Linked DNA regions of Homo sapiens. The protein of the gene in region 3 purifies or fractionates together with the protein of the main gene of each other region. This does not show direct contact. Each region holds a gene or a part of one and is shown on either strand. Other genes may lie near its edges.

What was found.
Region 1: the proteins of TEC (region 3) and SEC16A purify together in Homo sapiens (affinity purification with mass spectrometry; one large-scale study listed by BioGRID and IntAct). This does not show direct contact.
Region 2: the proteins of TEC (region 3) and MAPK1IP1L purify together in Homo sapiens (affinity purification with mass spectrometry; one large-scale study listed by BioGRID and IntAct). This does not show direct contact.
Region 4: the proteins of TEC (region 3) and KCMF1 purify together in Homo sapiens (affinity purification with mass spectrometry; one large-scale study listed by BioGRID and IntAct). This does not show direct contact.
Region 5: the proteins of TEC (region 3) and LTV1 purify together in Homo sapiens (affinity purification with mass spectrometry; one large-scale study listed by BioGRID and IntAct). This does not show direct contact.
Region 6: the proteins of TEC (region 3) and PEX2 purify together in Homo sapiens (affinity purification with mass spectrometry, with the first as the bait; one large-scale study listed by BioGRID). This does not show direct contact.
Region 7: the proteins of TEC (region 3) and RBM34 purify together in Homo sapiens (affinity purification with mass spectrometry; one large-scale study listed by BioGRID and IntAct). This does not show direct contact.

The regions. Positions count from the first base shown.
Region 1 is NC_000009.12:136,444,244-136,448,540, forward strand, and holds part of SEC16A (protein transport protein Sec16A), read right to left. Parts: intron 3,919-4,297; coding exon 3,841-3,918; intron 3,667-3,840; coding exon 3,610-3,666; intron 3,438-3,609; coding exon 3,326-3,437; intron 3,122-3,325; coding exon 2,984-3,121; intron 2,773-2,983; coding exon of another isoform or gene 2,707-2,772; coding exon 2,612-2,706; intron 1,477-2,611; coding exon 1,402-1,476; intron 869-1,401; coding exon 809-868; intron 1-808. UniProt on the Homo sapiens protein: Acts as a molecular scaffold that plays a key role in the organization of the endoplasmic reticulum exit sites (ERES), also known as transitional endoplasmic reticulum (tER).
Region 2 is NC_000014.9:55,054,234-55,058,530, forward strand, and holds part of MAPK1IP1L (MAPK-interacting and spindle-stabilizing protein-like), read left to right. Parts: intron 1-4,297.
Region 3 is NC_000004.12:48,161,499-48,165,795, forward strand, and holds part of TEC (tyrosine-protein kinase Tec), read right to left. Parts: intron 2,270-4,297; coding exon 2,204-2,269; intron 1-2,203.
Region 4 is NC_000002.12:85,047,043-85,051,339, forward strand, and holds part of KCMF1 (E3 ubiquitin-protein ligase KCMF1), read left to right. Parts: intron 1-2,323; coding exon 2,324-2,606; intron 2,607-4,297. UniProt on the Homo sapiens protein: E3 ubiquitin-protein ligase which accepts ubiquitin from an E2 ubiquitin-conjugating enzyme and then transfers it to targeted substrates, promoting their degradation by the proteasome.
Region 5 is NC_000006.12:143,845,803-143,850,099, forward strand, and holds part of LTV1 (protein LTV1 homolog), read left to right. Parts: intron 1-248; coding exon 249-422; intron 423-4,297. UniProt on the Homo sapiens protein: Essential for ribosome biogenesis.
Region 6 is NC_000008.11:76,996,835-77,001,714, reverse strand, and holds the start of PEX2 (peroxisome biogenesis factor 2), read left to right. Parts: upstream 1-1,636; 5' UTR 1,637-1,725; intron 1,726-4,880. UniProt on the Homo sapiens protein: E3 ubiquitin-protein ligase component of a retrotranslocation channel required for peroxisome organization by mediating export of the PEX5 receptor from peroxisomes to the cytosol, thereby promoting PEX5 recycling.
Region 7 is NC_000001.11:235,140,285-235,144,581, forward strand, and holds part of RBM34 (RNA-binding protein 34), read right to left. Parts: intron 1-4,297.

The DNA.
Region 1 (4,297 bases), on a different chromosome or scaffold from region 3:
ATTTGCAGGCGGAAGGGTCGCTGCAAGCCTTTCTGCTGAGCCACGGCTGCAGCTGGTGCCTGGACAGGCAGAAGATGAAGCGTTCGTTCACCTCCCTCCCACATTGGCCGCAGGTCACTGCTGCACCCGCCCCGGCCTCAAACCAACGTTCTCATGCTTGATCAGAAAGGAGCAATCTTCCTTCCAAAGGAGAGCATCCTGACCGGGGAAACACTCACTCGGCGAGGCCACGACCCAGGCCCGTCATTGGAAAAACCAATTTGGAAAGAGCAAAATGACAGAACCCACTCATTGACTAGGACACCTCAGGGTCGATCCAGTTGCCCCATGTATGTGGAGACTGAACAGCAAAACCCCCTTTAAGGCCATTTAAAGGAACACTGCTGTAATCTCAGCACTTTGGGAGGCTGAGGCGGGCGGATCACCTGAGGTTGGGACCAGCCTGACCAACATGGAGAAACCCCGTCTCTACTAAAAATACAAAATTAGCTGGGCGTGGTGGCTCATGCCTGTAATCCCAGCTACTCAGGAAGGCCGAGACAGGAGGATGGCTTGAACCCAGGAGGTGGAGGTGGCGGTGAGCTGAGATCACACCATTGCATTCCAGCCTGGGCAACAAGAGCGAAACTCCGTCTCAAAAAAAAAAAAAAAAAAAAAAGGAACCCTGTACCCTTGGTCACGTGACGCTGAGGGAGACAACGGGCGAGGTTAGTGGCAAAGCGCACGTGGCGAACCGGCACCGCGTGCTCAGGAACACAGGCGGCACACGCCAGCTCTCATGTTAGTGAGGACCACCAGCCGCAGGTACCTGATTAAAATGCTGGCTCACTTCACGTGATAATGAACTCATTGAACTACAGCGCGAAAGCTACAAAACAGCAAGAACACACATAAAACACGGACGAAAGTCAACATGCACGTCACTGTCCAATCCAAGCTGTCAGTTCCATTTCAAAAGCTTTGTGATGCCATTAGAATCAACATAACTCAAAAGGGAAAAAAAAGCCAGTGTTAGCTTAAGATTCCTGTCTTAATGTAAAGCTGTTATCCCGAAACAACCATTAGCTTAGGGGAGGGCTGGGAGGAAAAGTCCAGCCTCGGCCTAAGCCAGCTTCACCTCCTGACACCTCACAATTCAAGACAATTCCCGTGCTGTTGAAGGGAGAGGACCGGGACTGAGGCGACAACTCAAACCCCCTGCACCCCTCCTGGAGCTCCCAAACAGTTTTGTTAAAACAAGTGCAATTTTTTTTCCCCCAGGAACACCACCTTCGAGGTGCTCTTGTTTCTAAACTGCCTCTTCCTACCCAGTACCGCCCCTCCATAAAGGAAGAGGCGCCTGGACAGTGAGCTGCTGGGGAGGCCTGGGCTGCGGGGGGCCCTGGCGTCGGCACTCCTTACCTCTCCTCCCTGGGAACCCTCAGGCCTGGAGGAGGGGAGTTCAGAGCCAGGGAGTGACGCTGCAGAGCTTAAAACCTGCCGAGGAAAAGAAGAATTGCAGCAACCAAATCCCAGGGAATTTAAGTCTCTCACACCAGGCCAAAAAATATGAAACTGTTCTGGCCTGGGTTACAAACGCCCTCTTCCACGTAAAGTGCTCCTCAGAGAGAAGTGAAAAGTGCCTCACACGTGGGTCCAGCCGCACAACCCTGTTGACTCTAGACCCCTGCAGCTCTCTACCAGGTGCCTGTGTGTGCCCATGACAGGCTTGCAATCTGGGGCTACTGTTATTCCCATTTTACAGAGGGGAAAACTGAGGCTTAGACAGGTGAGTGACTGCCCCATGCTTTACACAGCTGATGAATGGAGAACAGGATTAGGCCCAGGCCTGTCCCACCGTACAGAGTGCAGTCTGAGCTGGTTTTTTTTTTTTTTTTTTTGAGATGGAGTCTGGCTCTGTTGCCCGGGATGGAGTGCAATGGCGCAATCTCAGCTCACTGCAACCTCTGCCTCCTGGGTCCAAGCGATTCTTCTGCCTCAGCCTTCTGAGTAGCTGGGATTACAGGCACCCGCCACCACACCCAGGTAAATTTTGTTTTTTTTTTAGTAGAGATGGGGTTTCACCATGTTGGCCAGGCTGGTCTCGAACTCCTGACCTCAGGTGACCCGCCCAGCTCAGCCTCCCAAAGAGCTGGGATTACAGGCATCATCCACCACTCCCGACTGGTCTGAGCTGTTCTACTTCACATGGGAGTCATTTGTTTTTTGTTTTTTTTTTTTGGATGAAAATATACTTAACTTTTATTATCGGTAGGTAATTTCTCTGTAACTTAGAGTAATTAATTTTACTTTTTCCAATTTTAAAAATTGTAAAATATACATACTGTAAAATTTGCCACTTTAATCATTTTTAAGTTTTAAGCACATTCACCGTGCTGAGCAACCATCACCGCCACTATCCCCAGATCTCCGTCTTCCCAAACAGCTCTGTCCCGCCCGGCACCCTGCATTCTACCTTCCGTCTCTACCATACATAAGTGTGAGGCGTTTAAGGCGGAACACTCTACGTACACATTGGATACTGACTTGCAGAAGGCAAGGCCCTGTCTGGCAGGATGGGGAGGTGCCTCCTCACTGGGTACCTTTCCCCTTTCCCACCGTACCCGCTCACCTTGGGCTCTGGGGCAGGCTCTGGATTGGCCAGGCCCCTAGCTGCTGCAGGCCCTTCCCTGCCAGTCCCGTCTGGAAGCTGTGGTTCTTCTGCATCTGGGGATGAGAGAGCGAGGAGGCCATCATTCCGTCCCGAACGTCCCTGGGGTCTCACTGAAGACACTCCGAGAGGAAGAGAGTTTCACACTGCACACGCGGCACACTCATGCAGAAACAGGCAAATCAAAAAAAAAACCACAAACCAACCCCAGGCTCTCTGCATGCTGGCCAGGTCATTCTTTTAACGGGAGATTTAGGAGAGACTCATAGAAAGAGGATCAAAGGTCAGGAGACTGGGGGCTGACCTGGAGGGGCTGGTGCTCGTGCTACCTACCTGGGGTTGGCACGAACAAGTTAGAAGGAATTGGGAGTGGCGCGAGTGGAGCGACAAAGTCCGCAGGAGCGAGAGCCGGCTCGCTCCGCTGGGTCCCGCTTGGGTTCAGGACGTCAACGTAGCGAGCTCTGGTTCCTGCTGCAAAGGGGAGGGAAGCAAATTGAGGTGAACGCGCCAGGTGGCCTCCAGCTTCCAAATGCTCTGCGCTCACTGCGTCAGAGGAAAAGCACGCAGGGACGTGCGGGAAGCCACCTCCTCCCCACGCACAACAGCTACACATTGGCCTCTCTCTCTGGGACAGTTAATCGTTCAAGCAAGCTCCCACTCCAAGGCCACCCTTACCTGCTCTTCTAGAGTACATGTTCACGGGGGCTCCAGGAGGCCCTGGGAGGGCAGGCGGGGCAGCTTGCACAGTCTTGGGCATCGAGGTTGGAGGTGGGGGCGGGGCTTTCTTCTGCAGAGGGAAACACAGCTTCAGACACCCACTGTGTGCACAGAAACCCACTGGGATGGCACAGTCAGGAGGCTCCAAAAGGGGCAACAGCCACCCAAATATCACAGGGCCACATGAGGCTGTTCCCTCCACTCACACCTCACACCCAACAGGAACTAGAATGACAATTTACCTCCTCTTCTGGCTCATTTAAATTCACCCACTGGTTTTTCTTTTCATCCCAAACAATCTGCCAAGATTTTAAAAAGAAAAAAGGTCAGCAGACTGAACCTAAACAGAATTAGCATCTGATTAATGATGACACTTCAAAACTTCAGGAAACACCTACTCAGGTCTGCTCTGAAAGTGACAGAAAAATCATTACAATTCTTCGGACGTCCCGTGCGTATTTGACAGCACTCACCGATTTGTTCTTGTCATCTGGCAAATAAGCTTCTGTCTTTTTCTTTCCAGGTAGCCAACGAAAGAACCAGGATTCACCCTAAATATAAAAAACACGAGAACAACTTTGAAAACATTATGTTCCATGAAATAAGCCAGGGCAAAAAGACAAATTCTACATGACCCACTTCTGTGAGGCCCCAGAGTCGCCAGATCCACAGAGACACCAGGAGAATGGAGGTGGGAGCAGATCCACAGAGACACCAGGAGGATGGAGGTGGGGAGCAGATCCACAGAGACACCAGGAGGATGGAGGTGGGGGGCGATCCACAGAGACACCAGGAGGATGGAGGTGGGGGGCGATCCACAGAGACACCAGGAGGATGGAGGTGGGAGCAGATCCACAGAGACACCAGGAGGATGGAGGTGGGGGGCAGATCCACAGAGACACCAGGAGGATGGAGGTGGGAGCAGATCCA
Region 2 (4,297 bases), on a different chromosome or scaffold from region 3:
TTCCAGCGATTCTCCTGCCTCAGCCTATCGAAGCGAAGTAGCTGGGATTACAGGTGCCTTCCACCACGCCCAGCTAATTTTCTGTATTTTTAGTTGAGATAGGGTTTTACCATTGGCCAGGCTGGTCTTGAATTCCTGGCCTCAAGTAATCCACCCACCTCGGCCTCCCAAAGTGCTGCGATTACAGGCTTGAGCCGCCGCACCCGGCCATTAATTTATATTTTCAGTACGATACATATCATCCCCCCATACTAAACAAATCAACCCAAAAATTTTGATTTCGCTTAATTTCGCCTAACAAATATCTAACATGTATATAGCACTTTATAGATTAAGTGTGTTACTATTTTCTGTGCAGTGGGCAGGAATTATAACTTCTACAGATGGAAAATGGTCTCTTATTGAGAAGTTTTTTGTCAAAAGATAACCGTCAAAAGGATTCATGTCCGGGTTTCATCACTGTGTAGTCCCATACTGTTTATCACTCCATCACAATTTGAAGGCTGTCTGAAATATCCATGAACTCCACTGGTAATTCATGGAGTTCAACTCTCTTAACCACCCTCCTCCCTGACCCATGATTTTTACCCTAACAGCCATGAGAGTTTCCAAAAATGTTATGTTTTACTTTTCTAGTGTATGTCAAAAGACATTTTGTACTGTTTTAAAATTACTATTCTTGCTATTCAAAGAATAAAAAGTATTGTTTTTCAGATGATGGGTGGATCATGCTATAAAATGGTAACAAAGTTTTGGAAATAATAGCTTTAGATTATTCCAAAAAGAAAAAAAAGAAAGCCTTTCTTGAGTATAAATTGTTTTTATGAGTTCAAGGTTACATTGGCCTCATCTTAATAATTAGCGATGATTCAGATATTTTGGAATAGCTTTATATTTTTATTTATTTTTCTTTTTGAGACAGAGTGCCACTAATATTGCCCAGGCTGGTCTCTTAACTACTGGCCTCAAGCGGTCTTCCCACCTCAGCCTCCTGAGAAGCTGGGATTACAGGTGCACACTACCAAGCGCGGCTTAGAATAGCTTTTTAGAAAACCTAAACTTTTTATGTTCTGCAACTCTCCTCATATTGAAACGTTCATGTCCAACTGTTTTTCACCTTTTCTAATGAAAGTATTCTCCAAAGAACAAATTGGAATGCTTCCAATTATAGTTGTTCCCCCTTATCCTAGGGGGACACATTGCAAGACTCCCCAATGAATCCCTGAAACTGAAGTCTGTATACACTGCCGAAGCCTAAGTATACCATGTTTTTTAGATCTAATAACCAAGATGGGCTGATAGCGTATACAGCATGGATACACTGGACAAAGGGATGATTCACGTCCTAGGCAGGAGGGGGCAAACTTTCATTTTGCTACTCAGAACATGCTCTTGCCCCATTTAAAACTTAGGAATTGGCCAGGTGCAGTGGTTCATGCCTAATCCCAGCACTTTGGGAGACTGAGGTGGGCGGATTACTTGAGGCCAGGAGTTTGAGACCAGCCTGGCCAACATGGTGAAACCCCGTCTCTACCAAAAATTAAAAATTAGCCGGGCGTGGTGGCACGTGCCTATAATCCCAGCTACTTGAGAGGCTCAGGTAGGAGAATCACTTAAACCTGGGAGGCGGAGGTTGCAGTGAGTCAAGATCACACTACTGCACTTTAGCCTGGGTGGCAGAGCGAGACTCCATCTCAAAAACAAAACAAAAAACTTACGAATTATTTATTTCTGGAATTTTTCATTTAATATGTTCGGACCTTAGGTAATTAAAACCACAGATAAGGGGGGATCACCCTAACATGAACGCTGTTTATTCTAGGAATGGAGAGCTGGTCACTTTACTAAGACAGTGCCGTAGAACAGAACTTGTTACTAATTCCTATGCTTAGGGCTTTGTTTTTTAATCACAAGATTCTAGCACCTCCCCTATCTTCCAGACTTGGATTTTGAACTTTAAAATTTTGAAGTAGTGTTGTGAATCAGTTGAATATTATTAACTTGTAGAATAATTTATGTAATTCCATGACTAGGTAACTGTATAATTCTGAAAACCTGAACAGTCAAGGCCATTTGGTTCACTTTGATTCTCAACTCCAGAATTAATATGAACTTTGATACAGAATCATTTTCTATTTCAGAAAGGCTAACCCTGTTTAAAAAGCATGTTAGCCTTACAACTTACCGTATATTTTCTACACTGTTAGTCCTAAAAATTTTATTGTGTGATGTGATTGACGTTAAACCTTAACATGGGAATGGGTTGTATGTGGGTTTTTTTGTTTTTTTGTTTTTGAGACGGAGTTTGCACTGTCACCCAGGCTGGAGTGCAGTGGCTTGATCTCAGCTCACTGCAAGCTCCGCCTCCTGGGTTCGCGCCATTCTCTTGCCTCAGCCTCCTGAGTAGCTGGGACTACAGGTGCCCACCATTATGCCTGGCTAATTTTTTGTATTTTTAGTAGAGACGGGGTTTCACCTTGTTAGCCAGGATGGTCTCAATCTCCTGACTTCGTGATCCGCCCTCCTCGGCCTCCCAAAGTGCTGGGATTACAGGCGTGAGCCACCGCGCCCGGCCATGTTTTTTGATATTCTGAATAAAAAGGATATAGCAGTTGGGATAGGCTTGGGTTCTTGTCCTTTATGTTCTTGTCCTTTCCTCATGATAATCAAATCATAATTAGAAATAAGATGCTAAGAATACAAAGGTGGCTCTATGTTAATACTGTATTGATAGGTCAAAGGAGAAAAAGCATGAGATCAATTCATTAGATACTGAAAAGTCTTTTGAGGGAATTTAATGTCTTCTTGCTTTCTTTATTAACAGAATAGGAATAAATAATAGCATAGGCATAAATTAAAAATAATGTAATTTTTTAAAATCTCAAACTAAAAATGGGAATCATACTTAAACATTAGCATTCCCAGGAGAGTTGGAGCAAGACCTCTGTGCCCACTATCACTCAACATTTCATTATTTAAGTCCTAGCAAGTGCAAAACAGAAAAGATGCATAAATATTAGAGAAGGAAAGTTATTTTTTGCAAATGGCGTATTTTTTATCTGGAAATACCAGAGAATCAAGTGAGAAACTTTGAAGAATAAAATAATTCAGTAATGATGCTTCCTACCCTAGGTTAATTAATATAAAGAAGAGTTAAATTCCTATGGCATATTTCTGGTAACAAAAACATCACTAAACTTTTAAATAAAACCCAAAACACTTCTAGTATTAAACATTTAAATGAGCTGGGCGCAGTGGCTCACGCCTGTAATCCCAGCACTTTGGGAGGCCAAGGTGGGCGGATCACAAGGTCAAGAGATGGAGACCATCCTGGACAACATGGTGAAACCCCGTCTCTACTAAAAATACAAAAATTAGTGGGTGTAGTGGCCCGCACCTGTAGTCCCAGCTACTCAGGAGACTGAGGCACGAGAATCGCTTAAACTGAGGAGGCGGAGGTTACAGTGAACCAAGATCGCGCCACTGCACTCCAGTCTGGCGACAGAGCGAGACTCCATCTCAAAAAAAAAAAAAAATTTAAATGATTTCTACTAAAAATTTTAAAAATTAGCATGCCTATGGTCCCAGCTACTCAAAGGCTAAGGTGGGAGGATCCACTTGAGCCTGGGAGGTGGAGGTTGCAGTGAGCTGTGATCACACCACTGCACTCCAGCCTCGGTGACAGAGCAAGACCCTGTCTCAAAAAAAAATTGAATGAATGTGAGCTGTGTATACATTTAAGAAAGATTAATAAAAAGATAATTATTTGCCTCCCTCTTCCAGTTCAGGGTCTCAATGGCTGGAGCCTTTCTTGGCAATTCAGAGTCCAAGTTGGGAACCAGCCCTGAACTGGACGCCATCCCAGCACAGGGTGCTCTCACCTACACCCACGCTCACAGACTGGGCCGCGTAGACACATCCATTCATGTGCATCTTTGGGATATGGGAGGAAACTGGAGTACTTGGAGAAGACCCATAAAGATGGGAGAATGAGCCAGCTTCACACAGACAGTGACCTCAGCTGAGACTTTTTGTTTTTTCTTCTCATCAACATTATAACAAAACAAAGTTGAATGAAACGTCTTTCGAGGACCTGCTATAGACTAAAATTTTAAAACCCTGTCCCATATATGAACGAACAATTAGAAAATACAGTAGAAGAAAAGAGCCTATTTACAACCACAGGGAAAAGTTTAACAGAAATCCCTTAAAAGAAATGTATATAGGAGATCTGATCAAGAAAATAAACTACATGAAAAGGACAGGAACTAAACAGTCCTCTGTGTCTGCATTTGCG
Region 3 (4,297 bases):
GGGCCTGGAAATCCTGAGTTCAGCCCAGTGACAGTCTGTGGCCTGGGATTCCTCCTGGGCCCAAGCAAAGAGAACTATTCACTCCACAGCTGCCAGAGGCTTTTTTTTTTTTTTTTTTTAATACTTGAGAACATTTAAGTTGTTGTGATGGTTAATATTGAGTGTCAACTTGATTGGATTGAAAGATGCAAAGTATCGCTCCTGGGTGTGTCCATGACGGTGTTGCCAAAGGAGATTAACATTTGGGTCAGTGGACTGGGAAAGGCAGACCCACCCTCAATCTGGATGGGCACAATCTAATCAGCTGCCAGCACAACCAGAATAAAAGCAGGCAGAAGAACTTGGAAAGACTAGACTGGTTTAGTCTTCTGGCCTACATCCTTCTCCCGTACTGGATGCTTCCTGCCCTCGAACATTGGACTCCAAGTTCTTCAGCTTTGGGACTCAGACTGCCTTCCTTTCCCCTCAGCTTGCAGACGGCCTATTATGGGACCTCAGCTTGTGATCGTGAGTCAGTACTCCTTAATAAACTCCCTTTTATATATACATCTATCCTATTAGTTCTGTCCCTCTAGAGAACCCTGACTAATACAATTGTGTTACAGGGTGGGCTTTGGCCAAAACAAAACAAAACAGAACATGGAGTAGGAAGACAGAATAGGGTCTCTGCCTGCCCACATGGGAACAGGTTTCCCCTTGGTCATCTACTGGGCATGGTACAAAGGCCATGTGGATTCCCTGGCCTCTGAACAGAATGCAGTGGCACTCCCACGCTGGAGGCTGAAGTACAGAGTTATGCAGAGGAAGAAAATTTCTTGGAAGAGAGAAAATTTCCAAATTAAGGTACATTTGAAACACTCGAGGCCATGAATCATAAACTTCAATATTGAAAAACCTCAACTGAAATCACATGAGTCATAAAAGGAGTTCTCATATTTAGATAAGGATTATCTGGCTTCCAAGCATCCTCTTTCCCCAAATTCAATCAGTTCTCCACGCTATCGCTTTAAAACCAGGCCCAAGTTTTCACCTTTTAGCACCTTCCCTAATTCTAAGGATTTTATAATTTTTCCAAAAATCTATTTGACTTAAGGGCAGAAATGCTACTTTATTTATACATTGTTTATACTCTCTTCTACTTCTAAAATTACTTTGAGAGATCACATCCACTGAGCGCTGTGGCTTTTTGAACTTGTTAACCCTTTCCTAGATGTTAAGGTACACTTATGGTATAGCAAGTGACATGAAGAGAGGAACAGCTTGTTGTTGCTATTGTTTTCAAGGAAGTGAATGAAGCATCAATACACCACCTCAGAATGACCATAAAAGAGCGTTCAATGTATATGAGCCTCACGTTACAACTTGGCCACACACTGCTAGTGGGTATATAAATAATACAAGTTATCTGGAAAGCAATTTGACAGCATGCGTTGGGAACCCTAACAATGTTCACGTACAGCCTGTAGCCCAGCACATAGATTTTAGAGATCCAGTTTAAGATAAGAAACAAGACGTTATCCCATTTTTTTTTTAATATAGCAAAGGTACCTAAAACAACCTAAACCACACAAATAAGGAAATGATTACATAAATTATTGGACATCCACGTGCCATCTGCCTGGTTATGTCTCTAAGGCCATACATAATGCTTGATACATGCTAAGATCTCAGTAAATATTTAATAAATTTATGATCAAATGAAATAAAATGTAGCTAGGAAAATGTTTTCAAAGAATATTAAAGTGTATGAGGAAATAAGCATGATTCTATCTTTTCAAAAATAGTAAAAAGATTGAAAGGAAATATACTAATGCTGACAAAGGTCAACTCTAATTAATTTCAGTAATTTTTTCTTATTAACATTTCCACTCTGGAAACTGTTCTGCTTATGTCCTGAATGAATGGACATGATCTGTATTTCAAAGTCAGCTAATCTGTGATTTATTTCAAATCAATTCAATTATGCTTATGTAATTTATGTACATAAGCCTATGTAACTCCATTCACACAGTACCTTCAGGAAAAATATATTATAGAGATTAATTCTCAGTCTTTTACCACATCAGGCAATTGAGTTAAGGATATTTTAGCACCCCCTTCAAAGAATCATGAAAGATATCCATTAATCTTCAAAATGCCTTACATAATTAGGAAAATGAAAAGTTTCTGATTTTCCACATTCACAAAATAAACATTTACTTACTCATATTGATCTAAGTTGTTTGATTTCTTTCCCGTTACGTAATTACTTGGGATATATCCTTCATTCCTAGAAATAAGAAAAATACTTTAGGTAAACTTACTTTACTGGGAGGTTATTGAAAGAAAGAAAGATTATTGCCTTTTGAAATAAAGCATGACATTGCTTAAAGCTTATTATAAGAAAGACTAGCTGACCCCCCAAAATGCAGTATCTGTAATTCACTTGACATTTTACAAAGTACTTTCACTTTTGGTCTCCATAAAAATTCTGCGGTAGGCAGGCATTATTGTACCTATTTTCTGGTGGGGAAACTAAAGCTTAGAAAGGTTATAGGATTTTTTTTCCCAAAGGTCCTAAAGTTAGCCAGCAACAGGGCCAGAACTCAAACTCTGGACTTGTGACTAGCTCCTGTGCTCCTCCAACATTCCACAATACTTCTCCAGAATTCACAGTTTTGCTGATATGTGTTAAAGAAACCATTACTTGAGAAAAGTCAAAGTGTTGGATTAAAAATACCCACCACTCTAATACCTCAATAGTTCTTATAGAATAGTTTCACAAAGGATAATTCCTGGCCTTTCGGTCAGTATCATTTGGGGCACCTGTTAAAACAGCAAATTCTTGGGTCATAACCCAATAAATGTGAACTGAGAAGACCTATGTGAGGTCAAAAAATGTCCGATTTTACCCCAAATGACTTTCACACACATCACAATTTAAGATGCACTCTTATGTAAGTAGGAGCTAAGGTTTTCAGCATAAGAAAACAGATATACATATAAAATTTAAAAATTGAGTAGAAACCTTATAATCTTAAATTTGAATTTAAAGTATTAGTAAGAACTCATAATACACACACACACACACAAATGTGTGCATACAGGTAGCTCTGTTGCACTGAGAAAGGCCCAGAAGGAACGGCAATCCAGCAGCAGTTAAGATCTTAGCATTGCCACTGTCTCTAAATACCATTTGTGACTAAAAGGAGCCAGTCCCCCTTAGAAAAATGTCAAATTGTGTCCAGGTGCAGTGGCTCACGCCTGTAATCCCAGCACTTTAGGAGGCCAAGGCAAGCAGATCACTTGAGGCCAGGAATTCAAGACCCGCCTGGCCAACATGGCGAAACCCTATCTCTACTAAAAAATACAAAAATTAGCTGGGCGTGGTGGAACATGCCTATAATTCCAGCTACTTGGGAGGCCGAGGCACAAGAATCACTTGAACCTAGGAGGCGGAGGTTGAAATGAGCCGAGATCACGCCACTGCACTCCAGCACTCCAGCCTGCGAGACAGAACGAGACTCCATCTCAAAAAAAAGAAAGAAAAAGAAAAGAAAAGAAAAATGTCAAATTGTAAGTTTGGCCAGAAAAATAAATACAAGATAACTTGAGCCATTTCACTGAGCCAGAAAGTAGGAAAGAAAAACTAACAGGATCCTCTACCAAAAACAGCCACCATCGACCTAATTTGGCCAATTCAAGCAAAGAGAATAATGGTGGCAATGGATTGGAACCAAATATATAAGTATCCATAATAACACTAAAAATAAACTGTTGGTTACCATTGTTATCACTAGAGAAAGCTCAGTCATCAACTCATTATTCTGAAAACTAGTAAAAGTTTAAGAATCCAAATTTCATCTTTCCTTTCCTTCATGAACTAAATGAACTGGTATATGAGGCAGTTCTTCTTTAGAGAACTACTAAATGCAGATGGAATGACAAAATTAGGAAATCACCATTTTGTAACCCCTAATGAAATAATGACTCTAAGAAAGAATCATTAATGAACCCCCAAATCATCAGGGTAAATACCAATGAAGAACTTTATGACAGAGGAACAAGTCTGACACCTGAACCACTAAGCAATCTTAGCATTACTAAAAGTAGGACATCCAGAGATCACCTTCTAATGTGATCAAGCCTCTAGCTCTACTCGCCAGTTCACAAGAAATACAAGAAACACAGGCATATTAAGTGACACCACAAGAAAACAATCTGTTTCATCTAGATTATGGCTCATTTTAGTGTTAAATGACCTGCTTTCATCAATAAATCAAAAATGTAGAATAAGAGAAACATAAGAGATATATTA
Region 4 (4,297 bases), on a different chromosome or scaffold from region 3:
CATAGTATGTATAGGGTTCTGTATTATCCAAATGCCCATTTCAGCCATTCACTGGGGGTTTTGGAACGTATCTCCTGCAGGTAAAGGGAGACTACTGTTCTTAGAGACAAAAGATGATAAGAAATGGTTTTATGTTGTATTTGTGGCCTCTATTGAAGCCCAAGGAAATCATAAAAGATTTCAACTTGAATACCTCCAAAATGTCATGGTTAAATCTCCATAAGTACACATAAAAAAATGTCCAAAGCACATTTGAAATTAAGGTTTTATAAGGTATAGCTAACATTTTTAAGAACATGTTATGTGTAAAATTCTGTCACAGATTTATGCCTATCTCAGATGTTGTGCAAGGCGCCTCATGGCTTCCAGGTACACATTCCACCACATGGACACATTTCAGAACTGTTATCTATAGCTAATTGAAAAGACTAAAGAATTAAGCTCTTCTCATGGAAGAAAGGAAAGTAGGACTTAATGTCCTGACCTTGATTTGAGAACTATATTGTTGTAGAACATACTGAAAGGTACATGTTTAATAGCTTGGGAAAAATCTTAAAAAAAAAAAAAAAAACACAGTTTTTGAACCTGGCCATGTCACTGAGTCTAGTACATGACAAACCTAGGAAGTTGGTAGCAGAACACAGGGTCAAAATAAAATACAAGAAATCACTGTAGCCTGATAATCTGCAAGACACACCAAGCAGACAAGTGGTAAGACAGTGGGAAGTGTGCACACATTTAAAGCAACAATTCTGAAATGTGTCCATGTGGTGAAGTGTGCACCTACCTGGAAGCCATGAGCACCCTGCAGAACACCTGAAACATTGATAAGTGTAAATCTGTAATAGAAACTGAGAACATCAGAGCTAAATGACAACTTAGGAACACAAAGGAGGAGACAGCAGACACTGGGGGAGGGTAGCAAGAGAGAGAGGAGCAGAAAGATAACTGTTGGGTACTGGGCTTAATTGGGTCCTGGGTGATGTAATAATATGTATGACAAACCCTCGTGGCAGGTGTTTAACTGTGTAACGGACCTTCACATGTACCCCCAAACCTAAAATAAAAATTTAAAAAAGAAAAACAACCTAAGAACAATTTTATACCTATCATGTTATTTAAAAGTTAGATATACCATATAAAATTTTAATTCCAAATGTGCTTTGGACATTTGTGTGTGCAACAACAAAAACAAGCCTAATAAACTGAGTTTGGGGGATTTAAAAAATATTTCTTCATCCAAAGGGAATATTTACCTGCTATTTTGGTGGCAGGCACTAAAAATTAAAGTAGTTTCTGGGAGCAAAATTCAAAATTGAGAAATTTTCTTCATTTGATTTTTTTTCTGTCAGTGAAAATTAGTTTATTTTAGTGATAGACTGTATATTCCATGAAAGAGTGGTATAAGAGTGCTATAAAAAGCCTGGGATAAAGCAACAGTGAGCAAGAAAACAAACTGTTAATGAGTTTTAATGATAAAGAGTTTTTGCTGGCCTGAAAGTGTCTGCAAGGCAGTCATCGATTCCCTATAAGCGAGGTGGACCCTCCACTTGGAAGAAGGCATTTCACTGTACCTTACTTAGATGAGGATGCGGGGACAAAAGTTTACACCTCTCTTAATGAGTACAGCCTTATGGACACAAGACAGTCTGGATCATAACAGGCCACTAAGTAGGCTGTACAGTCAGATGCAGCAGGTTCTCAGGAGCCAGTCAGCCTTGCTGAGCACTGGTAGTGGTATCTACTGCAGTGGTACTCTGAAACAGCAGTACCAGAAGGTACTAGAGGGAGAAAGCAGAGGCAGAGAGTGTGCAAGGGCCACCATCAGAAATGATCCAGGCCTCTTGGACTGAATCCTAATAATTCATTCAGTCATTCAGTAAATGTTTGAATTCCTGCTATATCAGGCCCTGTTCTGATAGCTGGGAATATAGTCAACAGTAGACCTCATCCCTGCTTCCATGGAACACATATTGAGAGAGCTTATATTATAATTGGGCCCACAGATAAACCACTTCATTAAATACTAAGAGAAAGCTTCACTAAATTAGTCTATTATGCAAATAATTTTAAAGACAATTTAAGTTTTACTTCAAACATAATTCAGTCTGGGTTAATATTCGTATGCATTTGCATTCTCTGTCCACAGTAACTCCTGCCTTCAGGAGGCATTCTAGAAGGATTCAGCTCTTAAACTGTGTGCTGTGGTGGTTACCTACCTGTTCACAATGCTTTTGATGTTGTTCCAGTAAAAGAGTGATCTGTAGCGTTTTGTTTTCCTCAGTATTAAGCAGACATTAATTGTCTTCATTTCCATTGGCAGAGCTTTTATCTCAGTTATCAGGAGTGAGACGTTCTGCAGGAGGACAGCTTAATTCCTCTGGCCCTTCCGCTTCTCAGTTACAACAACTGCAGATGCAGCTGCAGCTAGAACGGCAGCATGCCCAGGCAGCACGGCAACAACTGGAGACCGCACGCAACGCAACCCGGCGTACTAACACAAGCAGTGTCACCACTACAATCACACAATCCACAGCAACAACCAACATAGCTAATACAGAAAGCAGTCAGCAGACTCTACAGAATTCCCAGTTTCTTTTAACAAGGTAGCTCATTTGTTAATAGAATTTTGTTTGGGAAGTAATATTTTATTGCCACTACAGTCTGGAATTATCTTTTCTCTTTTGTGCATTATATTTCTTTAAAATTTTGTGTTTGATTAAAACTCACAGATCTCTGATTAAAACGCATATTCAGTATTTCCCCAAGAATGTGAAACATAGTAATTATTTTAGATAAATTAAGAATACTGGGCCAGACCCAGTGGCTCACACCTGTAATCCCAGCACCTCACACCTGTAATCCCAGCACTTTGGGAGGCCAAGGCAAGCAGATCGCCAGAGCCCAGGAGTTCCAAACCACCCTGGGTAACATGATGAAATCTTATCTCTACAAAAATGAGCCAGGTGTGATGGTGCGCACCTGTAGTCCCCGCTACTCAGGAGGCTGAGGTGGGAGGATCGCTTGAGCCCTGGAGACAGAGGTTGCAGTAGCCAAGATTGCACCATGCACTCCAGCCTGGGTGACAAGAGTGAGACCCTGTCTCTAAAATAAAATAACTGGTCTTGTTCTCAAGGTATATATCATCATATAATATGAATTGTTTTGCCATAGTACCCATAAAACTTAAACACTATATCATTATATATATATGGTTCATATTAGGTGTATTTATCATAATTAACGTTGCTTGTTATTGCCAGTTTTAATCTGCTTTGAAATATTAAAAGTATAAGAAGGATTTCATAATACAGTGGCAGTTTTCTCCTGTGAATTTCTAAAAAAGCTAGATTTAAATTTTTATGGTTGGCACACAAAAGTAACTTAAAAAAATGGCTTCCTATGGTATAAATAATATTTAGTAAAACAGTAAACTACTCTACTAGATGGAGTTCTTGTTTGCTTCTGAAACTGTTAGCAACTGCATGTATTTGTCTGCCAAAACTTCACAGGCATTTTATGTGACTTTTAGGAATATAAAGAATTCTTAAAAGAGCAATGATGAGTGGAGACTTAGCCTCAACAGATAATGAACCTGGACTAATTGGGCTTTTAAGGGAGCAGAGAGGAACATAAAGGAAGAACTGTAAAATGAAGAATAAAGTTTGTGTAATACATGATTATTTCCAAAATGCAGTGTGTATGACAATTCATTGGGATGTTAGAGGAAAATATTATAATTTCTACTTATGTTTCTTTTATCTCATACTCTGTTAATACAGTGGTGCATGTGTATAGTTATAAATAACATATTGTGGGTGCAGAATAAAAAATGCTTGAAAATCCCTGGGCTAGAGCCCCAGCTTTGCCAATTACAAGTTTTGGACCTCAGGCAAGTCATTTCACTCCTCCAAACCTCAATTTTATCATCAGTATCCCAGAAGTTTTGCCTTTAGAGAGATAATTATTTTGAGGATTAAATGGAATACTGGTATGTGTATGGTCTGGCTCACTATCTGGCCTATAGTAAAGGTCCAATTAATGGTACTCGTTATCAACATTTGTTATGAAACCAAGAAAAACATTTTAAATGGGTAATTTACCTTTGAATTATCTCTGCAAGGTCAGTAACTGTGCCTGGTTATTACCAGATAATGCTGCTTTAATGTAAGAAAACCACAGAGCCACAGATGGAGCTACCTGCTGCCATGTAGCCTTCCCCATAGGGACTGACCAGCAGCAGGTCTATAACATACCAGATCTAAGTCCCTACCTCAAAAAGGAGATCTACTAGCGT
Region 5 (4,297 bases), on a different chromosome or scaffold from region 3:
TTTTAAAAGCATGAATGTTTTCATTCCATTTTAATGTTACGTAGCACTCTGGTTTTGAAGCTGTACATTTCCTGTTTGTCAAGAATTCTTTGTCTTTTTCCCATCAGCCAAAATGTTCATGTGCCATCTGCCTCCTACTTGGAAAGCTGTACTCATTGTAATATTCCCATGCCTTATCCTTGGAAGGCTTACTGATTCCATTTTGTTTATAGATAGTGAAGAAAGTACTAATTCCATTTCGTTTATAGATAGACAATGAAGAAAGGCGAGCAGAACAGAGGAAGTATGGAGTGTTCTTTGATGACGACTATGACTACCTGCAGCACCTGAAGGAACCATCTGGGCCTTCAGAGCTTATTCCCTCAAGTACCTTCAGTGCACACAACAGGAGAGAGGAGAAAGAAGAAACGCTAGTAATTCCAGTAAGGCTTTTCAGCAATTTAATTGTGGGAGTGAGGTGAAGAAATCATTTTTGAATCAAGATATCTGTTTGGGGCAAGAAATGGTGTCCGTATGAAGAGCACAAAGATAGACCACGCCTCCACTTAAAATTATATATGTGTATGCATGTGTATACCATCAGGAGAGAATAGGTCACGTCTTCTCTGGTGGCAGGTGTCAACAGTAACAGCCTTTTTATAGGTTCAGAACTTTTGATTGATAGACATGGCCATGTTAGACAGCACTTTTCAATAGGAGAAAAGCAGCTGACATTCTACATGTTAACAACATAACTGTTTTCAGGATCATAAACTCTTGTTCTAAGATAGGACTTAACTTTTGTGGAATATTCAGATCTTTAACACTTTTGTAAAAGCTGCAGGCTACTCATAAGCAAACAGAATGAGTGGATGATAATAACATTCCTGTCTTGTAAACAAATGTTCGGTCCACTTTAATACCTTCTCTTTCAGGACAAATGATAGTACGTGTTTATAAGAAATTAGTGCTGTTAGTCTAAGTTCTGTTTTCTCCCCTGTTTATGTTAAGAATGCCCATGTTGTATGCCTCCGTGACCTTATTTTTAATTTGATGTAGAGTAAATTTTCCTGTGGGAAACTTTTATATCACCTAGCACTTTAAAAAAAGGAGACATTCATTAGGTTTATAAGCAAAAGGTAAGAGATAGAAAGGGCACCAGTTTACCCTGCTCCTCATTCCCCAATTCTGTCATGGTCTAGGCATTCCTTTCCTTGGGGAAGATGTGATTGTAGTTCTTATAGGCAATAGCTTGTTGCTTAAGGAGACTCAGAAAGGTTAGGTTTCAGGATACCATCCCAAAGAAAGGTAATAACTGCAGCTGCTCGTTCACTAAGTAGGTTGTGGCTCTTTTGTAACGCCCCAAATCCCACCACATCTCTGTCATAGAGAACCAACTTCTTTATTCCTTCTTCCTCAAGGCTTTATTGGTAGTAGGGACTTATTGGCTCACTTGCTTCTATAACCTATTGAAGGAGAGAAGGGGTTCCTTAGTGGCTCAACTTGTTTATCTAAGGGAGAAAATTCTTAGTAAAGTCTTGCCTGGCTTGTATTGACCAGTACAAGACTAACTTTTGTTGTTGTTGTTATTGTTGTTGAGACGGAGTTTTGCTCCTGTTGCCCAGGCTGGAGTGCAGTGGCACGATCTCGGCTCACCGCAACCTCCGCCTCCCGGGTTCAAGCGATTCTCCTGCCTCAGCCTCCCTAGAAGCTGGGATTGCAGGCATGTGGCACTGTGCCCGGCTAATTTTGTATTTTTAGTAGAGCCGGGGTTTCTCCGTGTTGGTCAGGCTGGTCTTGAACTCCCGACTTCAGGTGATCTGCCTGCCTCGGCCTCCCAAAGTGCTGGGATTACAGGCGTGAGCCACCGCGCCCGGTCGTATAAGACTAACTTTTAATCCTTAATTCATTTTGAGTAAAAGCAATCACTAATTGGCTTTTTAACAGGATAAGGCTCTTAAATGGACACTTCAGTGACCTTTGCAGGGACAGCTGAATTGTATTTAAAAACAGAAGTGTGGTTGGTTTTCTGAAGAGCTATGAAAAAATATGGATTAGTCCCATATACTTTTTTTACTTTAATTTGTAACACACCACCAAATTCGAGTAGATTAGAAATAATGAATAACCCCTAGAAACAGTGTAAGACAGTGTAAAAAGGCAGTATAGAAATGATTGATGCTTGAGCAGGCCCTGATTTTGACATGAAAGAAAGATGGTGGTGCTGTTGTGGAAAGTAGCTGGGCAAATGTCATGTAGTTGAGAACTACTGCAACCAATGAAAACACAGCACTCCTCTAAAAACAGAGTAATTTCTCTTTAAACTCTTAATCGTGTATGTGATTGACTACTTTTCAAGATTTGAAAAATATCTCACAAAGGTAAATTCATTTAACACAAACTGACCTTGTGTTTAACCCCAAACTTCTAAGGATAAATATCACAAAGGTACCTTTTTAAAAACCTAAAAGACTATGTAGATTTTACTACAATTTTAAGTAATTAATAATGTAATATCCTTAAAAAACATTAAATTGTACACTTTAGGTGAATTGTATGTGAATGATGTCTTAGTAAAGCTGTTTTCTTAAAAATATACTCTACAGCAAAATAACATCTTTGCCCATGTTTGTGCTACTGAGAAACTCATTTTGGAAGCCATAACATCTTGCTGTGTGTACACTGCCATATGTAGCCTTTACTCATGCTCCTCAGAGGCTTCCAATTCAGAGAGCTTTCTCAGTGAGCCAATGAGGATGCACATTCCAGCTTTGTGCCTCCTCCTGGGCTGAGGATAGGGCAGGTGGTGAGGTGCACAGAGATAAATAACACATGGCGGTTGTCCTCACGTTATGAACTGTTTGGTCAAGGAGAGGAAACAAGCATAAGAACCAGTCAGAGAATGTAGGCTAGCAAGCACATGTTTGAGTAGATTGCAGCGTGTGAAGAAGGCGGGAAGTTCACACAAAGGGAAGTTCTAGGACAGTGATCAGAAAGGGCTTCATGTCGGAGGGTAGGAACCGAGCTGGCCACCAAGTGGTGGGTACTGTTGACAGGAGAAGGAACATTTTCAGTCAGGCTGCCGAGACAGTGAGCACTGTGGTTCCGTGTCAGGCACATGCGCGCCAAGTAAAGTGTTTTGCATTATTACATGACTGAGGAATGAACTTGATTTGCATGGTCATATAGAATAACTGAGAAATTTGGATACACAGAGTAGGCCTTGATTTTATAGGTCCTTGAGAACCAGGGCCTTAAATACAGAGTGAAAAATTGAGACCTGTCAGAAACTCAAGAAGGTCACATGAAAAACTATTAAAGGAGCTTAATCTCGCCATGGGTATGAAGGTTGTAGTAGATATAGACTAGCTATATGAGCGGTTGCAGTCATTTATGTTTTGGTTAACTATAAATGAGGTGATGCCCCAAAGAATAGAGTGAAATCACTGTATGTAAGAGATTTCAAGGGGACATAGGACAGAGCAAAATGATTTATAACCACCCGAGGATTTAAGATTGCCAATTCATACAAGGGCTGTGCCATTACTAGAGATTAGGACATTATCTCTAGTTTAAGAGGAAAATGTTTAATTTTGGTTTGAAATTTCAGGCAAGTGGAGTTAAGAAACTCTGGGATTTGAATCCCAGAATCTCACTTACTGATCATTCTCAGGCAGGTGGGCCATTTAAACTTTCCTAGTTTTTGTTCTTTTGGTAAAACATGGTGATACCTCATGGGATCTGAGGGATAAATGGAATAATTTGCTAGAGAAGGCATTGTGATGTATTATAGAGAGTTACTTTTGGGTTTATGATGGAATATACATGTTTAACATATATACAACCTGGAGCACAGGTGAGAGAACACAGAATGTAGTTGTAATAGTTTCCTAGGACTGCAGTAACAAATTACCACAAACTAGGTGACTTAAAACAACAGAAATTTCTTCCTTCATGGTTCTGGAGGTCAGAAGTTTGAGATGAAGGTATCAGCAGGTTTGGTTTTTTTCTTGGGGGCTTAGAGGGAGAGGCTGTTGAATGGCTCATTCCTAACTTCCGAAGGTTACCGGTGATCATTCCTTGGAATTCCTTGCCTTATAGAGGCCTCACTCCAGTCTGCTGTCATCTGCACATGGCATTCTCCCCTGTGAGTCTCTGTCTTCATGTGGTCTCGTTATAGGACCATGGTCCAGTAAGACCTCATCTTATTATAGTTGAGAGGACCCTATTTCAAATATGGTCAGTCTAAGGTTCTGGATGGACATTGATTTGGGGGGGACTTCAACCCGGTACACTAGTTAAGAAGAATTTCCAAATA
Region 6 (4,880 bases), on a different chromosome or scaffold from region 3:
AATCAAGTCTTTGTGTGTATTTTCCCCCGTCCCTCTCAAAAATTAAGTGAAGCACAGCACATCTGTAGGCTACCTGAGAGGTGCAGCGTGGTTGGTTTTCTTCACAGTTGCTAAACGAAAGGCCTACTCTTCTTCAGTGAGATTTTTTTACTCTCTAGAACAGCAGTATCCATAGAAATATAATGGAAGCCACGTAATTTAAAATTTTCCAAAACATTCTCATTTTGACATGTAAGCAATATAAAATTAATGAAATACTTTACATTCTTTTTCTTTTCAGACCACGCTTTAGAAATCTGGTGCATGTTCTACACTTAGAGCAGACCTCAGTTCAGACTAGCCACTTTTCAGGTGGCCAGTGACTACTACACTGGACAGTTGCAGCTCTAGAAAATCCACTCCCAAACCCCTAAGTGAACTACATACTCTATCAATTTGTAGCTTCTACTCTATCTCATTTGTACCATTGTTTCACAATTTGGATAGCATTAGAGTTAATAAATTTTATTTTAGCAACTCTGCTCCATGGGTAGTTTCTGAAATAAAAATACAAGCAAAAAAAAAAAAACTTTCCTAATAACACTGGTTCTACAGTATAAGCTCTCCCTCGAATGTCTAATAGAGCTTTCGTAGAAGTGAGTGTTCCTTGTAGGAACGGTGAGTCGAGACTGGAGGTAAGAACTAAGACGTTCTTAAACCCTACTACGTGCTGGAATCCTGAAGTGCCTGCCATCATTCAAACTTAAGCACTAACTCTCTAGAGAGACACTGCCATTCATACCACAGAACGAGAAGGCAGTGGCGATCCTCAACGGCTACATGTCACTGCCTGGTGAGCACTCTTCCCTCAGACCCCATTCCCAGAAGCTCTGCCTCGATTCCCCAGGGGTAGGCGAGCTGGCTGCCCGAATTCCTAAGCGTTACCGGGGAGATGTGAGGGCCTCCGGGGGCGGGAAACCTCAGGCCAGGCGCGCGCTGGCCCGCTCTACGGGGTCTCTCGGGAGCGCTTTGCAGGGCGGATGACTGACGGGCCAGCTACCTGCCTTCCTGAGCCTGCAGAGATAAACAGCCTATCCTCCCTGTGCACACAGGCCCCGAGGGCGGGCAGGTCTCCAAGCGCAGCACAACTGCCCCAGGCCCGACGCAGCCACCTGCCCGAGGGCTCCCTCCCCACCAGGCCATCCCTCAGCCGGTCCTCCTCCGACAGCGAACAAGGAACCCCGGAGGCGCGGAGGCGTCTCGCCGCCACCCGGCGGCGCCTGCCAGAGGCCCTTCGCGATGTCCGCAAGCAGAGAAAGCCCTGCCCTCCCAAGCCCCGGCTTCCCCTAGGCCCCTCGACACTTGTAGTGTCCTCACTTGCGGCCCCTGACCCGGGGCTGACCGGTTCGTGACTCTCCTGCCAATCAGAGACAGAGTTCTTCCGGCCAACCGGCCAATCACCGCGCGCGGGTGTCCGCTTCGGCTTTTCGGCCCTTCGGCTCTTCGGCTTGTCGGCGTTCGCGGTTGTTTGGCCATCCAGTGCCTTCAGCAGCGCCGCTAAAGCGCAGTTCTCGTTGGTGTAACTTTTTCTTTTTTTTTTCAGCCACTTCCGGCTCCTGCGTCGCTCCGGAAGCCTGCGAGTTCCGGAAGCCTTGGTAATCCAGATTCGGCTAGGAAAAGACAAGCTTTCCAGAGAATGTTTCAGAGAAAGTTACGTGGAGCGTGGGCGTTTCGCAGACTCCTAAGGTCAGTGTCTGCCCTAGAGAGCCGGAGTGCAAACCCGAGGTCTTGTTTTCAGCTGGGAGGTCGTGGAGTTTCACGACCTTGTAATTGTCGCCGTTTGCTTTTTTTTCCCTGTTTATTGGCTTCCTGTCTCCCTGGAAAAGGCAAATCAAAGCTGCTGAATTTTGGGAAAGGCAGTGAAGCAAACCTAAACTCCTAAAGATGTTTTTAGGATCGCGGCATTAAAAATAAACACACACACAGCTGCAGTTGAGCCCCTCTGCATTCCACGTAGTAACTTAAGAGACGAACTTCGAAATCTTTTTCTCTCATTTGGCGGTCGTGAAGATATTTACCTCTTATAAACGGCTTTATAAAGAATTGAGGATCCAAACTTTACTTAATATCTGAAAGTTCATGTAAAGTGTTATATGTAGTACAAAAAATTTGAGTGCTTAGTTTTCTAACACTGTTGAAAGCGCACGTAAATGCAGTTTGGTTTTCTTATGGAGGAAGAGATAATGAAAAGTTTCTGATAAAATTGCTTGCGATAAATTAGTTATATTTCACGTTGACTTTTGATAAGAAATCTGAATGTGAGAATTGTTAACATTTTTTCCTGGGTTCTTAAATTAAAAATCGTTGTTTGTTTATTTATTGAGGTACCATTTTCCAAATTTCCCACATTTAGTGAAAGGGCTTTTGGCAAAATGAGCAAGCTGTTGAACGTTCAAGTCTAACACATTCTGTTAAACTTCCGTGATGCCCCTCGGAAATATTTTATCTTGACGTTTCGGACAATTAAATGATACTTGGGCGCTCACAACACCGCAGCTTGTAGTCTAAACACCTTCCCCTAAAGTGTTACCTTTACTTAATCCTGAACAGAATGAACTTGGGGTGGCTCTTTTAACTTATCTGATCTCACCTATATTATCAATTACTTGTTTCCAGAAAGATTACAGTTGAGTGATCTTGAGCCAGAAAGAGATTTGAAAGAATTATTTACAGAGTCAAAAAAAAAAACCCTTCATATTTTTTTCTTAAAAAAAAAAATAGAAGTAACAGGACATAGAGCGAATACTAGACTAGTAGACTGAAGAGTATTAGACTAAATCAAGACAGTTGGATTCTAGTCCTGACTCTAGTTGCCTTTGTACAATTTTACCTCTTGGCCGTATTCTCCTTATTTTTAGAAACTAGTGTTAGTACTCAAGCTGGGGTTTTAAAACTGTTCCATAGGAGAACTTGTGTAGAAATTTTCTGGAGCCGTGCAGGGAGAGACAAAGCAAGCCCACCCTCAGGTTTATTTTAACAAGAGCAGCCATTTAGGTGTTCCGCTTGAATAACAAGGTTCTTGTTAAGAAGATTAAATTTATGTCTTAAACGAGATGATCTGCCTTTTCTTCTAGCATTAAAATTCTGGTTTTTGGGATAATTATTCATTTGTACTCAATGTACATTTATTACAGTTTTTAAAAATAATATATTCACAGCTAATTTATTTCTAAAAGCTACAAATATGTCCCTATTCTGTTTCAATTTATTTTATCAATACAAATTTGAAATGTTTTTCTTTATGAACAGAATTAGAATTTATTATTCCTTCTTCTCCATATCCTTTTATTTTAGCCATAAAAGTTTTGCTTATATTTGATGCACATAATGATTCTTGCCGTAGGGAGGACAAGTATTTTTCATTTTACATATTTGGTACCTGAACGTTAAAGGTATTAGCAGGCTTGCTCATCATCACACCCATTAAAAGAGCTCAGTCCTAGCCCCATGTTTTTCTCACAACATCAAATAATTGTAAGTTTCTTTCCCTCTTGCACACCATCCACATTCTCAGGTTCCAATAGCACAAGGAAAATGTGTGAATGTACACAATCTTTATTTCTGGCCAGAAGTTCTCTCTTGAATTATTTCATTTTTTCCTCTTTTGATGATCTGAGTTGGACAACCTAGAAGCAAATTGGATGTTCTCTGTACCTCTTTTCTGTGAAGTGATAACAGTTTGTAAATGTTTCATGTTCCTTTTCTATTCCTTTGGAATGTACAAGAAACCTCAGGAGAAAAGCCCTAAATTGCTCCATTTGCCCTGTCTGTAATCCTGCTCTTTTAAACCCAGCCCTGTAGTTTCTTTACATGGAAGTGGAGGCAAAGAAGGGATGTCTAGTGTCCTCTGCCTTTCTCCGTGTGGGATATTAGACTTCTTCCTAACATATTCCCATCTATACAATAAAAATACCTTCTTCTATGTTGCTTCTTACTCAATTTAATATATTTTCTTTTTATCAGACATCTCCCTTATTACTGCCTGTCAATAAGATGAGATAAAATTCCATCCAAGTTATCTTTTCTTTCTTCTTACTAGTAAAACAACCAAGAACTTAAGTGTAATGGTGTTTTGATTATGCCTAACCACTGTCTTTTCATTTTTTTGAGACAGAGTCTTGCTGTGTTGCCCAGGCTGGAGTGCAGTGGCACAGTCTCAGCTCACTGTAACCTCTGCCTCCCGAGTTCAAGCAGTTCTCCTACCTCAGCCTCCCGAGTAGCTGGGATTACAGGTGTGCACCACCACACTTGGCTAATTTTTGTATTTTTAGTAGAGACAGGGTTTCACCATGTTGGCCAGACTGGTCTTGAACTCCTCACCTTAGGCGATCTGCCCACCTCGGCCCACTTGTCTTTTAGTGTTAGATGAATGAGTTGGCATTACCTCTACCTTGCATGTATGTGTTCGTAATAGTTAATGTTCACACCTTGAGTTTTTCACTCATCTATTCCTTTTGTTCAGATTTGACATGGTTCTTTGAATGGTCCTTTGACCACATGTATAGTGAAGCAGGGAGAAGGAATATAGACAAAATACATCCCAAGCAACAAGGAAAACTTTACCTCATTCCTTTAATTTCTTTCCCCATCTACAGTCCTGACAGCTTGACTGGCAGTCTGGTCTTTTGAATGATCTTGAAGGGGAAAAAGATTTCTTTTGAGTTCTGTGGGATTAAATTTGATCCAAGCTTAGCAAATGTCCATTCTACTAAGTGTATTTTGTATGTTCTACAGTTTTTCTGATGTTTACCATAAATTTACTTATTACCAGCTTGACTTTAGATGGGTTGTTAATCTTCTCAAGCCTTAATTTTTATCTTCTTAAAATGGAGATGATAATA
Region 7 (4,297 bases), on a different chromosome or scaffold from region 3:
GGGAGAGGCGCGAGTGGGAACCAGGGCTGCGCGGCGCTTGCGGGCCAGCTGGAGTTCCAGGTGGGCGTGGGCTTGGCGGGCCCCGCACTCGGAGCAGCCGGCCGGCCCTGCAGGCCCTGCCGGCCCCGGGCAGTGAGGGGCTTAGCACCCGGGCCAGTGGCTGCGGAGGATGTACTGGGTCCCCCAGCAGTGCCAACCCACTGGCGCTACGCTCGATTTCTCACCGGGCCTTAGCTGCCTTCCCGCAGGGCAGGGTTCGGGACCTGCAGCCCGCTATGCCTGAGCCTCCCACCCCCTCCATGGGCTCCTGTGCGGCCCGAGCCTCCCCGAGGAGCGCCACCCCCTGCTCCACGACGCCCAGTCCCATCGACCACCAAAGGGCTGGGGAGTGCAGGCGCACGGCATGGGATTGGCAGGCAGCTCCACCTGCAGCCCCGGTGCAGGATCCACTGGGTGAAGCCAGCTGGGCTCCCGAGTCTGGTGGGGATGTGGACAACCTTTATGTCTAGCTCAGGGATTGTAAATACACCAATCAGCACCCTGTGTCTAGCTCAGGGTCTGTGAATGCACCAATCGACACTCTATATCTAGCTACTCTGGTGGGACCTTGGAGAACTTTTATGTCTAGCTCAGGGATTGTAAATACACCAATCAGCACTCTGTATCTAGCTCAAGGTTTGTAAACACACCAATCGGCACCCTGTGTTTAGCTCAAGGTTTGTGAGTGCACCAATCGACACTCAGTATCTAGCTGCTCTGGTGGGGCCTTGGACAACCTTTATGTCTAGCTCAGGGATTGTAAATACACCAATCGGCACTCTGTATCTAGCTCAAGGTTTGTAAACACACCAATCGGCACCCTGTGTTTAGCTCAAGGTTTGTGAGTGCACCAATCGACACTCTGTATCTAGCTGCTCTGGTGGGGCCTTGGACAACCTTTATGTCTAGCTCAGGGGTTGTAAATACACCAATCGGCACTCTGTATCTAGCTCAAGGTTTATAAACACACCAATCAGCACCCTGTGTTTAGCTCAGGGTTTGTGAGTGCACCAATCGATACTCTGTATCTAGCTGCTCTGGTGGGGCCTTGGAGAACCTTTGTGTCGATACTCTGTATCTAACTAATCTGATGGGGACATGGAGAACCTTTGTATCTAGCTCAGGGATTGTAAATGCACCAATCAGCACCCTGTCAAAACAGACCACTCGGCTCTACCAATCAGCAGGATGTGGGTGGGGCCAGATAAGAGAATAAAAGCAGGCTGCCCTAGCCAGCAGTGGCAAGCCACTCGGGTCCCCTTCCACACTGTGGAAGCTTTGTCCTTTCACTCTTTGCAATAAATCTTGCTACTGCTCACTCTTTGGGTCCACGCTGCTTTTATGAGCTGTAACACTCACCGCAAAGATCTGCAGCTTCACTCCTGAAGCCAGCGAGACCACGAGGCCACCGGGAGGAACGAACAACTCCAGACGCGCTGCCTTAAGAGCTGTAACACTCACTGCGAAGGTCTGCAGCTTTACTCCTGAGCCAGTGAGACCACGAACCCACCAGAAGGAAGAAACTCCGAACAAATCCGAACATCAGAAGGAACAGACTCCCGACGCACCACCTTAAGAGCTGTAACACTCACCGCGAGGGTCCGCGGCTTCATTCTTGAAGTCAGTGAGACCAAGAACCCACCAATTCCGGACACATTCTCTTGATGGAGGAGAAGGCTAAGCTGCTAGGGGAGGGATAGCAAACCCTGTCACTCCAGGGCACAGAGAAGACCCCTACAGCCGGAGGAAGGGAGGAGTCCAGCTACCGGGGGAGAGGTGGGAAACATCCTCTGCATAATCCCCACTAAAGGTACAAGGCATTTGGCACAGCTTGGCTGCCCCGGGAAAAAAGCCCTGATCAGGTGCACTCCTGAGACACGGAAACACTAAGACAAGACAGCAGAGACCCTGCTGCGCCCACTCCCACCAGACTACCAAGCCAACTGACAAGCAATAGCACTTTTTTTATTTTGAGACGGAGTTTCTCTCTTGCAGTCCAGGCTGGAGTGCAATGGCATGATCTCGGCTCACTGCAACCTCTAACTCCCATGTTCAAGTGATTCTCCTGCTTCAGCCTCCAGAATAGCTGGGATTACAGGCGCACGCCACCACTCCTGGCTAATTTTTGTATTTTTAGTAGAGACGGGGTTTCACCACGTTGGCCAGGCTGGTCTTAAAATCCTGACCTCAGGTGATCCGCCCACCTTGACCTCCCAAAGTAATGGATTATAGGCGTGAGCCACTGTGCCTGGCCAACAACAGCACTCTCTAAATGAGATCTTCAATAAAACTTAAAACTTTCAATCTTTAAGAGACACCTCTGGGCGTGTGTGGTGGCTCATGCTTGTAACCCTAGCACTTTGGGAGGCAGAGGTGGGTGGATCATCTGAGGTCAGGAGTTCGAAACCAGCCTGGCCAACATGGTGAAACCCCGTCTCTACTAAAAATACAAAAATGACCCGAGTGTGGTGGCGCACGCTTGTAATCCCAGCTACCTGAGAGGCTGAGGCAGGAGAATCAGTTGAACCCGGGAGGCGGAGGTTGCAGTGAGCTGGGATCGCACCACTGCACTCCAGCCTGGTGACAGAGCAAGGATCCATCTCAAAAAAAAAAAAAAAAAAAAAGACACCTCTAAAAAAGCCAGCCACAAACTGGAGCAAAATATCTGAAACACACATAGCAGGAAAAGGTGTTATATCTAGAATATATAAATAACTCCTTACAACCATATAAAAATAATTTAAAAGTCACTAAAAAATGGGCAAAATTTTTGTACCAACATTTCACCAAAGAATAGATACAAATAGTAAGCACATAAGATGCCTAACATTTTTAGTCACTGTGGTTGACAAACCTTCAGAATGTCTAAAATTAAATGACAATGCCAAGTGCTGGTGAGGATGTGAAGCAACTGACATTCTCATCGATAGCTGGTAGGAATGTAAAATGGTACAAACACTTTGGAAAACAATTTTGCAGCTTCTTAGAAAGTTACAATATACCGTAAGATCTGGCAATCCGACCAGGCAGTTTCTCAAAAGAAATGATCCGTACCCAAATTTTTTTTAGCAGTTTTATGTATAATAGCCAAAGGCTGAAATAACCTGAATGTTCATAAACTGGTGAATGGGGCCGGGTGCGATGGCTCACGCCTATAATCCCAGCACTTTGGCAGTCTGAGGCGGGCGGATCACCTGAGGTCAGGAGTTTTAGACCAGCCTGGCCAACATGGCAAAGCCCCATCTCTACTAAAAGTATGAAAAAATTAGCTGGGCATGGTGGTATGTGTCTGTAATCCCAGCTGCTTGGGAGGCTGAGGCATGAAAATCACTTGAACCCGGGAGGTAGAGGTTGCAATTAGCCGAGATGGTACCACTGCACTCCAGCCTGAGCGACAGAGCAAGACTCCATCACAATACAATACAGTACAATACAGTACAATACATCACAATAAATACAACACAACACAATAAACAGGTGAATGGATAAACAAATACTGTCATACAAGGGAATACTACTGAGCAATAAAAACGAATTAATTACCAATGCATTGCAATAATAAGAACAAATCTCAGACAGGCACGGTGGCTCAAGCCTGTAATTGCAACACTTTGGGAGGCAAAGGCAGGAGGGCTACTTGAGCTCAGGAGTTCAGGACCAGTCTGGGCATTAGTGACACCTTGGCTCTACTAAAAACTTAAAAATCAGCCGGGTGTGGTGGCGAGCACCTGTAGTCCCAGGTATTTAGGAGGCTGAGGCAGAAGGACTGCTTGAGCCCAGGTGATAAGGCTGCCGTGAGCCATTATCGTGCCACTGAACTCCAGCCTGGGCAACAGCAGAAGACACTGTTCCCCTCCACCAACCCTCCCCCACAAAAAAACAAACCTCAAAATCATTATGCTGAGCAAATTAGACAAGAGTATATCCTGTATGATGACTCTACTTATATAAAATTCTGGAAAAAGCAAACTAACACATAGAGACAGAAAGCAAATGAATGGCTGCCTGAGGACAGAGGTGGAGGGACATATTGCAGAGGGTTAGAAGAAACTCGAGATGATAAAGTGTTTGGTATCTGGACTATGGCAGTGGTTTCAAGATTGCCTACATATGTTAAAATTATAAAATTGTACATGTCAAATATGTGCAGTTTACTGGAAGTAGCCTTAATAAACTAAAAAAAAAAAAAAAAGGTTTTAAACATTTTGGCTATAAGAAAAAGGAAAAAAGTTTTACATGGCAAAATTTCCCATAAGCC